Regions from separate parts of the Homo sapiens genome. Here region 2 is linked to region 1. The links come from fine-mapping of genetic effects on gene expression. Tissue or cell type: whole blood. Region 1 holds a variant in brackets; the other region holds the start of a gene. All regions are shown on one strand. Distances are between the middles of the regions.

Region 1 (4,242 bases):
ATGGAAGTCAATGAGGAAAGCTATTTCAATGTACTTTTCAAGAATATTTTTTCTTAAGAGGTAGTTTCTACCACATGCTAGAAAGGAAGATGAATGTTGAGCTTGGTGCCAAAGGGCTAAAAGTGACATATCAAAAAACTTTTTGCATTCCAGGGTCACCTCACCCTACATCCAATCACTGGAAGTCTCAACATCCTTTTCATGGAAGACTCACTAGTAATATGGTCTGCAAACACTGTGAACACCAGGTAAATACAATACCAACACTTGATATTTCCGGGAGAGGTTTTCCAAAAGTTAGGATTCTTGAAAGGACCTAGAGAGTGGGCTGACATCGGTCACTGGTGTTAGAGACTACCTGGCCTCTGCACACTAGTGGACTGACTACCCCACTTTGGTCAGTGTCAGCATGTCATTTGAGGTCAGATGGCATCTTCTGCACCAAGGACAACAGACCCACTGTGGATTGGCAGGCTCTTGAGTCCAGTGGTTGAGTCTATGCTCATGGTGGACACAGTAGATTCTAGGGCTGGTTTTTTCCCCTTTACTTTTGAGGTTTTAAAATAATATTTTATTATGGAAAATTTCCAACATCATACAAAAAGAGAGAATTGTACAACTGTCACCCCAATCCATTTTATTTTATTTTATTTTTTCACAGCCATTACTGACTCCGGGATCAGTCAACTTTATAACATTTTCATTGCCCCCTAAAGAAACTCCATACTCATTAGCAACCTCTCCCCATCCTTTCCATCACCCTACCCTTGTCAACCATGAATCTACCTCTGTCTCTATGGATTTGCATATTCTGGATGCTTCATATAAATGGAATCATGTAATGTGTGGCTTTTTGTGTCTGGCTTCTTTCATTTAGCATAATATTTCCACGTTTCTTCCATATTTTGGCATGAATCAGTACTTTGTTCCTTTTATTACCAAATAATATTGCATTACATGGATCTACAACATTTTTATCCATTCATCAGTTGATGGGCATTTGGATTGTTAACACTTTTTGGCCATTATGAATAATGTTGCTGTGAACATTTACATACAAGTTTTTGTGTGGACATATATTTTCACTTCAGTTGGGTATATACCTCAGAGTAGAATTGCTAGCTTATATGGTAACTCTTTTGTTTAACCTTTTAAGGAACTGCCAGACTGTTTTCCAAAGTGGCTATGCCATTTTTCATTCCCACCGGCAGTGTATGAGGGGTTCCAATTTCTTCACAGCCTCACCCACATTTTGATGTCAGCCCACTCTCTAGGTCCTGTCTAACATTGAGGTTCTAGCCATCCTACTGAGTGCAAAGTAGTATCTCACTGTGGCTTTTTCCCCCAGTTTTATTGAGATCTAATCGACAATAAAAATTGTATATATTTAGGGTGTACAAAGTGAAGATTTGATGTATGACTGTGTGTGTGTGTGTGCACGTGCACCTGTGCTCATATGTGGTGAGAACACTCTCTTAGTATATTTCAAGAATACAATACAGTATTATTAACTGTAGTCACCATGCTGTACGTTAACTCTCCAGAACTTATTCGTCTTATAACTGAAGGTTTGCATCTTTGAGCAACATCTCCCCACCTCCCCAGCCCCTGGCAGCCAGCATGTACTCTGCTTCTGTGAGTTTGACTTTTCTAGATTCCATATAGGTATGAGATCAGGTGGTGTTTATCTTTCTATATCTGGCTTATTTCACATAGCAGATGTCCTCCAGGTTCATCCATGTTGTCACAGATGGTAGGACTTCCTTTTTGATGGCTGAATAATATTCCATTATATGTGTATACCACATTTTCTCATTCATCTGTCTGTGGACATTCCATATCTTGGCTATTGTGAATAATGCTACAATGAAGATTGTTTTGCAGATGTATCTTTGAGATACTGATTTCATTTCCTCTGGATATATACCTAGGAGTGGCATTGCTAGTTCATATAATAGTTCTATTCTTAACTTTTTGAGGAACCTTCATACTGTTTTCCATTTACATTCCCACCAACAGTATGCAAGAGTTGCCTTCTCTCCACACCCTCGGCAACACTTGTTAC[G/A]TGCTGTCTTTTTTTTTCAGACAGAGTCTCGCTCTGCTGCACCCAAACTAGAGTGCAGTGGTGCCATCTTGGCTCACTGCAACCTCCGTCTCTTGGGTTCAAGCAATTCTCCCACCACAGTCTCCCAAGTAGCTGGGATTACAGGCACCCGCCAACACACCCAGCTAATCTTTTGTATTTTTAGTAGAGATCGGGTTTCACCATATTGGCCAGGCTGGTCTTGAACTCCCAACCTCAAGTGATCCGCCTGTCTCGGCCTCCCAAAGTGCTGGGATTAAGGCATGAGCCACTGTGCCTGACCACATGCTGTCATTTTGGTAATAGCCATCCTAACAGGTGTGCGGTGATAGCTCTTTATGGTTTTATTTGCATTTCCCTGATGATTAGTGATATTGAGTGCCTTTTCATATACCCACTGGCCATTTGTATGTCTTTTTTTTGCAAAGTGTCTGTTCAGCTCCTTTGCCCATTTTTTAATCATGTTACTTTTTCTTTTTTTTTTTTTTTTTGCTGTTGGTCCATATGAGTTCCTTATAAACACTCTTTTAGTGTATTTCAAGTATTCAATTTTGGATATTAACCTCTTATCAGATATATGGTTTGCTAATATTTTCTTTCATTCCATATGTTGCCTTTTCATTTTGTTGATTGTTTCATTTGCTGTGTCATTGCGGTTCTGAGTGACATTACCTTGAAGACTAATATGTTGAATGGTCTTTTTAAAAATAAGGTTCATATATTAAAAGATATGTAAGATATGTTAAGGAACTGTAATCTATAAGTTGACTATTCATCTCTTTTTTCCGTGCATTATTTTGATACTATTGTAAGTGGAATTTAAAAAAATTTATTTTCAAATTGTTTGCCACTAGTATATAGACATACAGCTGTTTATATATTGACCTTATATCTTGAGATTTTTGTAAACATTCATTTATTACTTCTAGAAGCTGTAGAAGTTTTGTTATGTATTCCTTAGCATTCTCTGTGTATGCAAACAGTCATGTTGCTTATGAATAGAAATAGTTTTAGTTCTTCCTTTCCAACCCAATCTTTATTCCTTTTTTTTTTTTTTCTTTGCCTTATTATCCTGGCTAAGACTTATGGTACAAAGTTAAATAAGAGTGATGATGGCAGACATCTTTGCTTTGTTTCAAATCTTCTGAAGCAAGTATTTGGTGTTTTATAATTAAGTATGATATTAGCTTTAGGTTTTAGTATACCTCTTTATCATACTGACAAACTTCCCTTCTGTTCCTAGTTTGCTGAGAATTTTTGTAATGAATAGTGATTGGATTTTGTCAGTTTTTTCTGCATCCATTGAAATGATCATATTTTAGTCTTATTCTGTTGACTTGGTGAATTACAGTGATTGATTTTTTCTTTTTTTTTTTTTTTTTGAGACGGAGTCTTGCTCTGTCGCCCAGGCTGGAGTGCAGTGGCGTGATCTCGGCTCACTGCAAGCTCCACCTCCCAGGTTCACGCCATTCTCCTGCCTCAGCCTCCCGAGTAGCTGGGACTACAGGCGCCCGCCACCACGCCCGGCTAATTTTTTGTATTTTTTAGTAGAGACAGGGTTTCACCGTGTTAGCCAGGATGGTCTCGATCTCCTGACCTCGTGATCCGCCTGCCTCAGCCTCTCAAAGTGCTGGGATTACAGGCATGAGCCACTGTGCCCAGCCAGTGATTGATTTTTCTAATGTTAAACCAACCTTTCTGGGATAAACCCCACTTGATCATGATGCTTTATTGTTTTTATATATTATTGAATTTGATTTGCTAATATTTCCTAAAGGATATTAGTATCTGTGTTTATGAGGAATATTGTTCTTACACTTTTCTTCTCTTGTGATGTCTTTGTCAGGCTTTGTTATAAGGATTATACTAGCCTCATAAAATAGGCTGGAAAATGTTCCTTCCTCTGTTTACTGAAAGATTTTGTTTAATATTGGTATTATTTCTTGCTTGTTTGCTAAAATTTGTCTTTTCTTTAGCTCTATTTCTGCTAATTTTTTTTAAACTTTGTTATTGGATACAAGCATATGTATTATGATGAGTTAACTCATCTTGTCATGATAAATTGTCCCTCTTCATCTCTGCTAAGACTCCTTGACTTGAAGTCTATTTGAATGATTCATTTTTAATCTAGCTAATGTTTATTTGGTCATTTCTTTCTG
Region 2 (4,242 bases), 21 kb before region 1:
CTAATTATAGCAGAGGCCTGACCCGACTTTCGGCTGTTGGCCTCCCTTCCCCACATCGAAAAATTCAAATCATGACCCAGGGTCCATCCTAGAAGTGTGCCATCTGTATTTATGAATGGAGCCTAAGCAAATCTGAAAACCAAGCAGCCCCAGGCAACTGAGCCCAGCGTAGCAACCGACGCCGGGGCCTGTTGCTAAGGGAAAAGAAAGAAAGGACGTGGTCCGTCAGCTATTGCTCTCCGGGGGCAGCTACTTCCGGTCCCCCTGGGAGCTGTCCTGCGGTCTACGTTCCCCCGAGGTGCTGGGACTGCGGCCGCAGGTTCCGCTGTCTCGGGAACCGTCGTATCCCTCGGTCCGGCGGCGGCGGCGGCGGTAGCGGAGGAGACGGTTTCAGGCCTCCGGTGCGGCTGCAATGCTGAGCTCCCGGGCCGAGGCGGCGATGACCGCGGCCGACAGGGCCATCCAGCGCTTCCTGCGGACCGGGGCGGCCGTCAGGTGAGATTTTGGGGGGCGGGGCTGCCGAAGAGGCCGGGACCAGGGTCCCCAGCTTGGGCCCGTGACGGCTTTTTCATGCCCTAGTTGGGGTCTCCAGGGCCCGCGCGGGCATTCTGGAAGGTTCTGCGTCCTTTAGGGTTGGAGGCCTGGGCCCGTAGGTGGGAGGACTGACGGGCTCCAGTCCTTCGGCAACACCAATTCTGTCTGCACTCCCCAGGTCTGTCAGTCCCTCCCCCTCCTGTCATTGTTCCCAGGACACCCGGGGCACTCCAGTCTTGTCAAGGCCCCTAATTCTGTCAGTGCCCTCAGTCCTTTCAGTGCCTCCTAGGCCTGCCAAGACCCCTCAATCCTTCTAGTATACCCCCAGTCCTTCTGGGTCCCCCAATCATATCAGTTTCTGGACTGCCAGGGTTCCCCAACCTTGGCACGGTTCTTCTAGTCCTATAAGTGCCCCGGGCCTGCGAGCCCCGCGTTTTGTTAGTACCGCCCCCTATTCCTGTTAGCCCGCCCTCTAGTCTAATATGGATCGCCACTTCTGTCTGGGTCCCTGATGTTGTTAGTGTGAGTAAAGGCCCTTGTTTTGCAAGGGTCTCTAAATTGGTCAGGGCCCCTTTAACCTGTTAAGGTTGCTTGGTCCTGTTAAAGCCCTCCGTTCTTGTTAGGACTCCTCGATTGCCTGGGTCCCCAATCCTGTCAGGGCCCCCATTTCCCTCTTATTCACCCTCCCAAGGGCTCCAGGCTTCAGAACTGAGTACCCCCTCCCCCACTGCTGACCCCAAATGACTGAGACCTGTTGCTCAGGTCGGCTTCCTCTGGAACTGGAGCAGGTTTAAAGAGCTTATTATCCCAGGGCTGAAAGTCCTCGATACTTATCCTGTCCAGTGCCCCCATTCCGTAGATAGGAAGTGTGGCCCCATAGCTGACCTCATAGCAGAGTTGGGAGGAGAAGCCAGATCTTTTCATCCGCAGGCCCCACCACTCTCCTCGTGATGTCATTTTGCAGAGGAATGGAGTTTCCAAAGTCGCCACTTGTCCCTGGGTATTTTTTCCTTATGCTGCCAAAGTCATGGACAAGTCCTCTCTCCCATCCCCTTGACACTCTTCCCTTCAGTTTCCATCTTGAACTTCGTGGTTTTAAGCACAGACCTGGGGAGACAGACAGGCATGATTCAGAGCCATGTTCCTTCACTCACTGTGACCAAGTTGGGCTCTTAGTTTCTTCTGCTATAAAAATGAAAGTGATAGTAGAACCTGCATCTGTGGGGTTGTTTTAAAAATGAGGTAAGATTGTCACAGGGCCTGGCAGAGAGTATGTACCCTTAAATATTAGTGTTTGATTAGGGGATTTTAAAGCACTGGTAAAGCACCTTAGCACTTCCATGACAGTCCTTTATAATCTTTCCAGGCACTTTTGTGAACTCACGTATCGTGTAAAAGCACAGTGATGTATTAAGAAACTTCAAGAATACCTTTCACCAGCTGGGCATGGTGGCTCACACCTGTAATCCCAGCTCTTTGGAAGGCTGAGGCAGGTGGATTTCTTGAGCTCAGGAGTTCGAGACCAGCCTGGGCAATGTAGTGAGACCCTGTCTCTACAAAAAAATTTAAAAATTACCTGGGCATGTGGTGTGCAGCTGTGGTCCCAGCTACTTGGGAGGCTGAGGCAGGAGGATCACCTGAGCCCGGAAGGTGAAGATTGTGTTGAGCTGAGATGGCACCACTGCACTCCAGCCTGGGCACTAGAGCAACTAGAGCAAGACACTGTCTCAAAAAAAAATAAAAATAAAAATAAGAAAAAAAGAAAGAATAGCTTTCATGAATGATCCTGAGATTGTAATGCTTAATTTGTAGCAGCTAACATTTATTAAGTTCTTACTATGTACTGTATGCATTCACACTTATTTAATCCTCACAACAGCCCTATGAGGTAGGTCTTATGGATTGTCCCCATTGTACAGATGAGGAAACTGAGGCTTAGAAGGTGAAGTGATGCCAAATGAAATAGCAAAGCCAGGATTGAACCAGAATAAGGTAATCCCACTTTCTTAACCAAGTTTGGTGCATATTCTGTTGACTCTGTCTTGGAAAACAAATATTTATCTGAAATTCAGCTATCAGCTATGATACTAAGAAATGCTGATTATTATAAAACAGGGTCAATATTACCACCAGTGACTCTTCACCAAGTTAATGTTTACTGAACTGAAATCAAAACAATATTCACATGATCCAAATACTGGGATAATAATGTATTACACACACACACACACAAACACGTATGTATGCATGTGTAACATATATGCAGATACACATTACATAGCTATATACACATAGATGGTTTGTCTTATTTTGTAGAAATATATAACTTTGTATAAAAACAATGTTTTAAATTGTTGGGGAAATTTCTTAATATGTAGCAAAAGCATAACCAGCGTTCAAGTCAAGCCTGAAGTTAGGAAATCTTTAATTTTATAAATATTCAGCTCTTTTATACCATTGTATGTGTGCCCCTTCCCTGTCTAATATTCTAAAAGAGAAATTCATTTCTGTATATTTTCTCCAGTATTCAGTCATTCAATAAATATTTTATATATATATACACACACACATATATATACATATATATATATATATATATATTTTTTTTTTTTTTTTTTTTGAGGCAGAGTCTCGCTCAGTCACCCAGGCTGGAGTGCAGTGGCGCAATCTGGGCTCACTGTAACCTCCGCCTCTTGGACTCAAGCCATTCTGCCTCGGCCTCCAGAGTAGCTGGGATTACAGGCACCTGCCACCACACCCAGCTAATTTTTGTATTTTTAGTAGAGACAGGGTTTCACCGTGTTGGCCAGGCTGGTCTCCCACTGACCTCAGGTGATCCGCCCACCTCGGCCTCCCAAAGTGCTGGGATTACAGGCATGAGCCATCACACCTGGCCTCAATAAATATTATTGAGAACCTACTATGTGCTAAGTATGATCTAGACACTTGAGCTCATTAGTGGGTAAAACAAAGCACATGCCAGTTGAGGGAGACAGACAACAAACCCAGTGCATTAAAAAAAAAAAAAAGAAAAGAAAAAAAACATAGCGAATAGGTTAATTTTATGTTAGAAGGTGGTTAAGTTCTATGGTAAAAAGAAAAAGTAGAAACATGTCAAGGGGACAAGGACAGGTCCCACTGATATGTTCAGGTAGGCCTCTTGAGAAGCGAAGGGAGGTAAAGGAGTGAGCCAAGCAGTGATCTGGGGGAAGAGCATTCTGAGCAGAGGGAACAGCAGTGCAAACGCCTTGAGGTCAGAGCATTGGCTGGTAACGTTCCATGTGGAAGTGGAGTGAGAGGCAGAAAAGGAAAATAACTTCAGTTTTTCCTCAGAGTGAGAAGTAGCCTTTGGAATGTGATGATTTGACTTAGTTTTTGTTGTTGTTGTTGTTGTTGTTGTTGTTTTTTATGAGACTGAGTCTTTCTCTGTCACCTGGGCTGGAGTGCAATGGCACGATCTCAGCTCTGTGCAAACTCTGCCTCCCAGATTCAAGTGATTCTCCTGCCTCAGCCTCCCGAGTAGCTGGGATTACAGGTGCACATCACCACGGCCAGCTAATTTTTGTGTTTTTAGTAGAGACAGGGTTTCCACATGTTGCCCAGGCTGATCTCAAACTCTGGGGTTCAAAGGATCCTCCTGCCTTGACTTCCCAAAGTGCTGGGATTACAGGGATGAGCCACCGTGCCCAGCTGACTTAGATTTTAAAT

The links. PIP is the estimated chance that this variant, and not a neighbour inherited with it, causes the effect.
Region 2: USP30-AS1 starts here. The variant in region 1 is fine-mapped to the expression of USP30-AS1 in whole blood (TOPMed, PIP 0.94).

What each region holds. Positions count from the first base shown.
Region 1 is chr12:109,073,285-109,077,526 of GRCh38, forward strand. It overlaps USP30 (ubiquitin specific peptidase 30), which reads left to right. Exons shown (of 13, transcript NM_032663.5): 7 at 154-248. Among named protein-coding and RNA genes, the nearest start is that of ALKBH2, 18 kb to the right of the region's middle. The variant G/A (reference allele first, on the strand shown) is at 2,066.
Region 2 is chr12:109,052,267-109,056,508 of GRCh38, forward strand. It overlaps USP30-AS1 (USP30 antisense RNA 1), which reads right to left and starts at 1,699. Exons shown (of 2, transcript NR_038996.1): 1 at 1,420-1,699; 2 at 1-472. It overlaps USP30 (ubiquitin specific peptidase 30), which reads left to right and starts at 310. Exons shown (of 13, transcript NM_032663.5): 1 at 310-495. The coding sequence starts at 413. RefSeq lists enhancers at 504-1,003, 1,337-1,706.